2 linked regions of the Homo sapiens genome follow. The protein of the gene in region 1 interacts with the protein of each later gene in a pairwise test. Each region holds a gene or a part of one and is shown on either strand. Other genes may lie near its edges.

Region 1 (3,750 bases):
TTCTGGGTGCAGTGGGGAACCTGTAGTCCCAGCTACTCAGGAAGTTGAGGTTGAGGCAGGAAAACTGCTTGAGCCCAAGAGTTTGAGACTGCAGTGAGCTGTGATCTCGCCACTACACTCCAGCCTAGGTAACAGAGTGAGACCTCAACTCTTTTTTTTTTTTTTTTGATTGGGAGTCTCGCTCTGTTGCCCAGGCTGGAGTACAATGGCGCAATCTTCGGCTCACTGATGCCTCCCGGGTTCAAGCAATTCTCCTGCCTCAGCCTCCTGAATAGCTGGGATTACAGGCACCCACCACCACACCTGGCTAATTTTTGTATTTTTAGTAGAGATGGGGTTTCACCATATTGCTCAGGCTGGTCTCTTGGCCAGGCTGGTCTCAAACTCCTGACCTCCTGATCTGCCTGTCTTGGCCTCCCAAAGTGCTGGGATTATAGGGATTATAGACGTAAGCCACTGCACCTGGCTGAGACCTCAACTCTTGAAAAAAAAAAAAAAATTAATCTTATCTTCCATAGAAGCAGGTTCCAAGACTGTTTAGTTATGTTATCAATTAGTTTGAGTTACCTAATAAGAACATATTATTTTAAAATTACACTAGTAAATAAACTTTTCATTAGATCTAGTTGACAGATATTTACTCAAAAAAGATTTACTGAGTTGAGCCTGTTCTTCTACGTGGCTGTCTACTCTTATAGATATATGAGCTCCTATATATACTGAACCCCTTTAGGATGGCCAAAGTCGGGCAGGTCTGGTGCCTTGCACCTATAATCCTAGCAATTTGAGAGGCTGAGGCAGGAGGATCTCTTCAGCTCAGGAGTTCAAGACCAGCCTGGGCAACATAGAGGGACCCTGTCTCTTAAGCAAAAAAAAAAAAAAAAAAAGAAAAGATTGTCAAAAAATCTGGGAAAAAGGTCTACTTTCAGAAAACTATGGAAGTGGGGTCAATAGCTGTTTTCAGAGATGTATGCTTTGTCCTCTGATTACATTGACATTCTTATAGGACAATAATGGGCTTCTACTTTTACAATAACCTCTATCCCCAAAAAGCAGTGATGCCCTGAGGTGGAGGAAGGGGATGTCATTGAATAAGGGCTGAATTAATTAATCCAACTGTGAATTCCCAAATCCAGCTACAAGTGTAAATTACCTGGGGAACTTTATTAGTACAGATTATTGGATCCTGTTCTTTTTTTTTTTTTTGAGACGGGGTCTTGCTCTGTCGCCCAGGCTGGAGTGCAGTGGCGCAATCTCAGCTCACTGCAAGCTCCGCCTCCCGGGTTCACGCCATTCTCCTGCCTCAGCCTCCCCAGCACCTGGGACTACAGGCGCATGCCGCCATGCCCGGCTAATTTTTTTTTATTTTTAGTAGAGACGGGGTTTCACCGTGTTAGCCGGGATGGTCTCGATCTCCTGACCTGGTGATCCACCTGCCTCGGCCTCCCAAAGTGTTGGGATTACAGGCATGAGCCACCACGCCTGGCCTGGATCCTGTTCTTCATTGAGATTCCAAGTTAGTCTTAGAATGTTGTTGTTTTGTTTTTTTTTTAATTTTTTATTTTTTGAGAGAAGGTCTTTTTCTGTTGCCCAGACCATAGTTCTATGGCACAATCATGGCATCATGGGTCACTGCAGCTTTGAGCCCCTCAAGTGATGAACCTGACTCAGCCTCCCAAGTAGCTGGGTTTACAGGTGCGCCACCACCACGCCTGGTGATTTTTTTTTTTTTTTTTGTAGAGACGTGGTCTTACTACATTGCCCAAGCTGGTCTCAAACTCCTAGGGTCAAGCCAACTCCTGAGGTCAAGTGATCCTCCTGCCTCAGCTTCCCAAAGTGCTAGGACTACAGGAGTGAGCCACCATGCTTGGCCTGGAATCTCTTTTTTTTTATTTTTCTTAACAAGATTACTTGGCGCAGGGACATGGCCTTCACACTGGACTGTATGACACACCAGGCTGTCCCAGGTAGCAATGCAACCTTTGATTCATACACATAGCTGAACAGCAGTGACCGCATGCACCGAAGTCATATTACCTCATAGGCTTCTGCCAGCTGGGAGAACTTCTCCTTGGCTTTGGGATCATCCTTATTTGTGTCAGGGTGATACTTCTTGGCAAGCTAAGGGAAAAACATGATAAATTACTCCAGATACAATGTGAACCCCAAATACCAGAAACAACAAAACCCCCGATACAACAGAACCCCAAATACCAGTCATAATTATGTTCCCTTTATAAAAGTTGTCTCTCGGCTGGGTGCAGTGGCTCACGCCTGTAATCCCAACACTTTGGGAAGTGAAGGCAGGCAGATCACTTAAGCTCAGGAGTTCAACACCAGCCTGGGCAACACAGCGAAACCCCTCTCCACCAAAAATAGAAAAAATTAGTCAGGCGTGGTGGCACATGCCTGTGGTCCCAGCTACTCAGGAGGCTGAAGCACGAGAATCACTTGAACCTGGGAGGTGGAGGTTGCAGTGAGCAGAGATCGAGGCACTGCACTCCAGCCTAGGTGACGGAGTGAGATTCTGTCCGCCCCACAAAATAATAATAATAATGATCTGTTTTAATGTATCCATCTCTTAACTTGAGGGCAGGAACTGATTCTGATGTATCTTTGCCCTTAGCACCCAGCATGGCTTAGAATAGGTAAATGAACAAAAAAGAAAAACAAATTTTTAAAAAGGGGGCCGGGCGCAGTGGCTCATGCCTGTTATCCCAGCACTTTGAGATGCTGAGCTGGGTGGATCACCAGAGGTCAGGAGTTTGAGAACAGCCTGGCCAACATGGCGAAACCCCATCTCTACTAAAAATACAAAAATTAGCCAGGTATGGTCACACGCGCCTATAAACACAGGTACTCGGGAGGCTGAGGCAGGAGAATTGCTTGAGCCCAGGAGACAGAGGTTGCAGTGAGCCAAGACTGCACCACTGCACTCCAGCCTGAGCCACACGGCGAGACTCTGTCTGAAAAAAGAAAAAATTTTTAAAAAGGGAAGAAAATGACTGAATAAATAGACGTCTCTGCTGTTTCAATTATTTTTGTAGGTAAATAAAATACAGTAATTGCTACAGCTTTACCTGATCTTTTTACTTCCGTGCCTAAAAATCTGAATGGTTCTCTAAATTAAGTCTTTCTCTTAAATTATGTCTCTGGGACTTACTAAGGGCCTCAAATCAACTGTCATGTGAGTCCAACCCAGCCTCCATCTTTTCAATCTTTTCCCACTCTTGGATCAGGCACCTGACTCTTGAGCTCAGGAAGAGACAGGCCATTCGCTCTTCACAGGCCAGGATCTCTGCTTCCTGTCCCCATGCCTCTGTTCATTCCATTACAACCCAATTAAAAAAAAAAGACAACCCAGTTAAAAGTGGGCAATGGATCCAAACACACGTTTCTCCAAAGACATACTAATAGCCAACATGCACAAGAAAGATGCTCACCATCATTAGTCATCAGGGAAAAAGCAAATCGAAACTCTAACGAGATAGCATTTCTTATTCACTAGGGTCGTAATTAAAAAGACAGACGATAATAGTTAAGTGTTCACTGGGATGTGGAGAAATCATGGCCCTCATATGCTGCTGGTGGGAATGTAAAATGGTGCAGCTGCTTTGAAAAAGGCTGGCAGCTTCTCAAAAGGTTAAACATCCAGTTACCATATGACTCAGCAACTATACTCCTAAATATCCAAGAGAACTGAAAACATGTCTACACAAAAACTTACATATGAATGTCTATATAGCAGCA
Region 2 (3,750 bases), on another chromosome or scaffold:
GGGCAGACTGGGAAGAAGACCTGCACCCCTGGTGACACTCACAGGTTGTGTTTGTGAATCAAGATGAACAGCCCGTTCAAGGCCAAGAGGCTGAGGGCCCCCCCTGCAGACAGACAGACACAGGCTGGAGCTGCAGTGACCTCGCTCCCACCCTACCCCCTGCCCACACTGAGTGTAAGTCTGTGGAGTGTGGCCTCTGCCCCTGCTGTCCCCTCCCACAGCCCCCACGGACACAAAGCTGGAGACCACATGCAGGGCAGGGGAGTGGGGGGTGGAGGCAGTGGGATCGGGGAAGAGGTGCTGCGGGGTGGGGGTTGGGGGTGTGAGCGAGGCGGCGGCACTCACCGAGGGGATTAGGGGTGTGGTGTGAGCGAGGCGGCGGCACTCACCGAGGGGATTAGGGGTGTGGTATGAGCGAGGCGGCGGCACTCACCGAGGGGATTAGGGGTGTGGTATGAGCGAGGCGGCGGCACTCACCGAGGGGATTAGGGGTGTGGTATGAGCGAGGCGGCGGCACTCACCGAGGGGATTAGGGGTGTGGTGTGAGCGAGGCGGCGGCACTCACCGAGGGGATTAGGGGTGTGGTGTGAGCGAGGCGGCGGCACTCACCGAGGGGATTAGGGGTGTGGTGTGAGCGAGGCGGCGGCACTCACCGAGGGGATTAGGGGTGTGGTGTGAGCGAGGCGGCGGCACTCACCGAGGGGATTAGGGGTGTGGTGTGAGCGAGGCGGCGGCACTCACCGAGGGGATTAGGGGTGTGGTGTGAGCGAGGCGGCGGCACTCACCGAGGGGATTAGGGGTGTGGTGTGAGCGAGGCGGCGGCACTCACCGAGGGGATTAGGGGTGTGGTGTGAGCGAGGCGGCGGCACTCACCGAGGGGATTAGGGGTGTGGTGTGAGCGAGGCGGCGGCACTCACCGAGGGGATTAGGGGTGTGGTGTGAGCGAGGCGGCGGCACTCACCGAGGGGATTAGGGGTGTGGTGTGAGCGAGGCGGCGGCACTCACCGAGGGGATTAGGGGTGTGGTGTGAGCGAGGCGGCGGCACTCACCGAGGGGATTAGGGGTGTGAGCGAGGCGGCGGCACTCACCGAGGGGATTAGGGGTGTGGTGTGAGTGAGGCGGCGGCACTCACCGAGGGGATTAGGGGTGTGGTATGAGCGAGGCGGCGGCACTCACCGAGGGGATTAGGGGTGTGGTAGGAGTGAGGCGGCGGCACTCACCGAGGGGATTAGGGGTGTGGTGTGAGCGAGGCGGCGGCACTCACCGAGGGGATTAGGGGTGTGGTGTGAGCGAGGCGGCGGCACTCACCGAGGGGATTAGGGGTGTGGTGTGAGCGAGGCGGCCGCACTCACCGAGGGGATTAGGGGTGTGGTGTGAGTGAGGCGGCCGCACTCACCGAGGGGATTAGGGGTGTGGTAGGAGTGAGGCGGCGGCACTCACCGAGGGGATTAGGGGTGTGGTGTGAGCGAGGCGGCGGCACTCACCGAGGGGATTAGGGGTGTGGTGTGAGTGAGGCGGCGGCACTCACCGAGGGGATTAGGGGTGTGGTGTGAGTGAGGCGGCGGCACTCACCGAGGGGATTAGGGGTGTGGTGTGAGCGAGGCGGCGGCACTCACCGAGGGGATTAGGGGTGTGGTGTGAGCGAGGCGGCGGCACTCACCGAGGGGATTAGGGGTGTGGTGTGAGCGAGGCGGCGGCACTCACCGAGGGGATTAGGGGTGTGGTGTGAGCGAGGCGGCGGCACTCACCGAGGGGATTAGGGGTGTGGTGTGAGCGAGGCGGCGGCACTCACCGAGGGGATTAGGGGTGTGGTGTGAGCGAGGCGGCGGCACTCACCGAGGGGATTAGGGGTGTGGTGTGAGCGAGGCGGCGGCACTCACCGAGGGGATTAGGGGTGTGGTGTGAGCGAGGCGGCGGCACTCACCGAGGGGATTAGGGGTGTGGTAGGAGTGAGGCGGCGGCACTCACCGAGGGGATTAGGGGTGTGGTAGGAGTGAGGCGGCGGCACTCACCGAGGGGATTAGGGGTGTGGTGTGAGTGAGGCGGCGGCACTCACCGAGGGGATTAGGGGTGTGGTAGGAGTGAGGCGGCGGCACTCACCGAGGGGATTAGGGGTGTGGTAGGAGTGAGGCGGCGGCACTCACCGAGGGGATTAGGGGTGTGGTGTGAGCGAGGCGGCGGCACTCACCGAGGTCGCAGGCGCGGGTGAGGAAGTCGATCATGAGCGTGGGCTGCGCCAGCTGCGGCAGGATGGCGTCATGCACAATCAGCAGCACCTTCTTGTAGAGGCTGAGGGGCAGCTGGGCGGGGGCCGGCAGGTGGGGGTGAGGGGCGGGTGGGCGGGGGCCGGCGGGTCGGGGTGAGGCCTCCGCCCTGGGGGAGACCCGGATGCCGCCCCCGCCCCCTCCCCGGCCTGGCCCCTACCTTGTGCTTGAGGAAGCTGAGCCACATGGCCTGGAAAACCCTCCTGTGCTCCTGCAACGGGGTCCAGACTGCACTCGCCGCCCTCCCCACCCCAGACCAGAGCCCGAGCAGCTGCCAGGGCACCCCGAAGCCCAGCCTGAGCCAACACAAGCCTGCTCTCCACTTTTCTGACCCTGCCTTCCTTCTTCCTGTCCCCATTCAAGTCAGGTACGCCTTGCCCTCGAGGCTGGAGTCTCAGAACAGCCAAGAAAGCAGCTTTGGCAAGACCATGGCCAAGAGGGGGGCTGCGCCCAAAACAGCCCACGGGGCCCACAGGTGGCACCAGAGGCTTGACTCCAAGAGGCGGCGGTGGCCTCTGACCCAAGGGAGGGTCCCGAGTTCACAGGTCTCGTCACCTCCCACACTTCGAGTGACCTGGTGGCCGTGCAAGCTGCCACCTGTACCCTGGGAGTTTCCTCTGGTGAGGAAGGCGGCAGCCTCCATGGGGTCTCACATGCACCCCACACACACCCCCAAACCCGGGAGGGTGCCCGGCTCTCCAGAAGCAACTCACCTTCAGGTGAGCAACCTTCCAGGTGTCCCACAGCTCTGCAGGGAAAGCGAGGGCAAAGGTCACCTGACCCGCAGGGGAGGCAGACCAAGGCTCAGCCCTGTCCGCCCCTGACTCTCAGCACACTCACCCGCCCGCTTCACATAGAAGCTGGAGACGGTGGGCTCCCGGCGGGGCAGGCTCACGGCAGACAGCAGCGTGAAGGCATTGTTCCAAAAGGCGGGGGGCACCTGCGGAGCCTGGCCTGAGTGCCTGGACGCCGCCCCCCAGTCCCTGCCTCCCTGGGAGGCAACAGCATGATGCTGGCGACAGGACCCCATCACCCACCTCGGGGTGCTGGCCAGTGACCCGGGCCACGGCATCCACGGCTGCCTGCATGGTGTGGTAGCGGGTGTCGTCGTAGTCCAGGTACTCCCGGAACTGGGACAGGAGCAGGCTCTGGTCCTCCTCAGGAGACAGCAGGCCTCCCACCACCAACTAGGGGCAAGGACCAGTGAGCAGCCCTGCCCGGCCCAGCATACGCCAGCAAGGTCCAGGCAGGCAGCCCTGCCCCATCGAGCCCCCCAGGCAGACTCCTCCTGGTTGGGTGGGCCACAGGAGCCACAGGAGTGTCCCAGCCAACAGCCAGGCTCAGCTCAGCAGGCCCCGCCCCCACTACGGGGCCATCCTGGGATCTGGCCAGCCAGCCAGGCCCTCTGGGAGTCCCCAGCAAGGCCCTCACCTTGAAGAGCTCTCGGGGGAACAGGTAGTTGCCTTCCCACTTGGACTTCTCCAGG

What was found.
Region 2: the proteins of DNAJA3 (region 1) and NOC4L interact in binary tests that used the Homo sapiens proteins (3 or more experiments, as listed by UniProt).

What each region holds. Positions count from the first base shown.
Region 1 is NC_000016.10:4,435,773-4,439,522, reverse strand, and holds part of DNAJA3 (dnaJ homolog subfamily A member 3, mitochondrial), read right to left. Parts: intron 2,122-3,750; coding exon 2,038-2,121; intron 1-2,037. UniProt on the Homo sapiens protein: Modulates apoptotic signal transduction or effector structures within the mitochondrial matrix. Affect cytochrome C release from the mitochondria and caspase 3 activation, but not caspase 8 activation.
Region 2 is NC_000012.12:132,147,334-132,151,083, reverse strand, and holds part of NOC4L (nucleolar complex protein 4 homolog), read right to left. Parts: coding exon 3,696-3,750; intron 3,452-3,695; coding exon 3,302-3,451; intron 3,205-3,301; coding exon 3,105-3,204; intron 3,013-3,104; coding exon 2,978-3,012; intron 2,493-2,977; coding exon of another isoform or gene 2,476-2,492; coding exon 2,425-2,475; intron 2,301-2,424; coding exon 2,189-2,300; intron 104-2,188; coding exon 43-103; intron 1-42.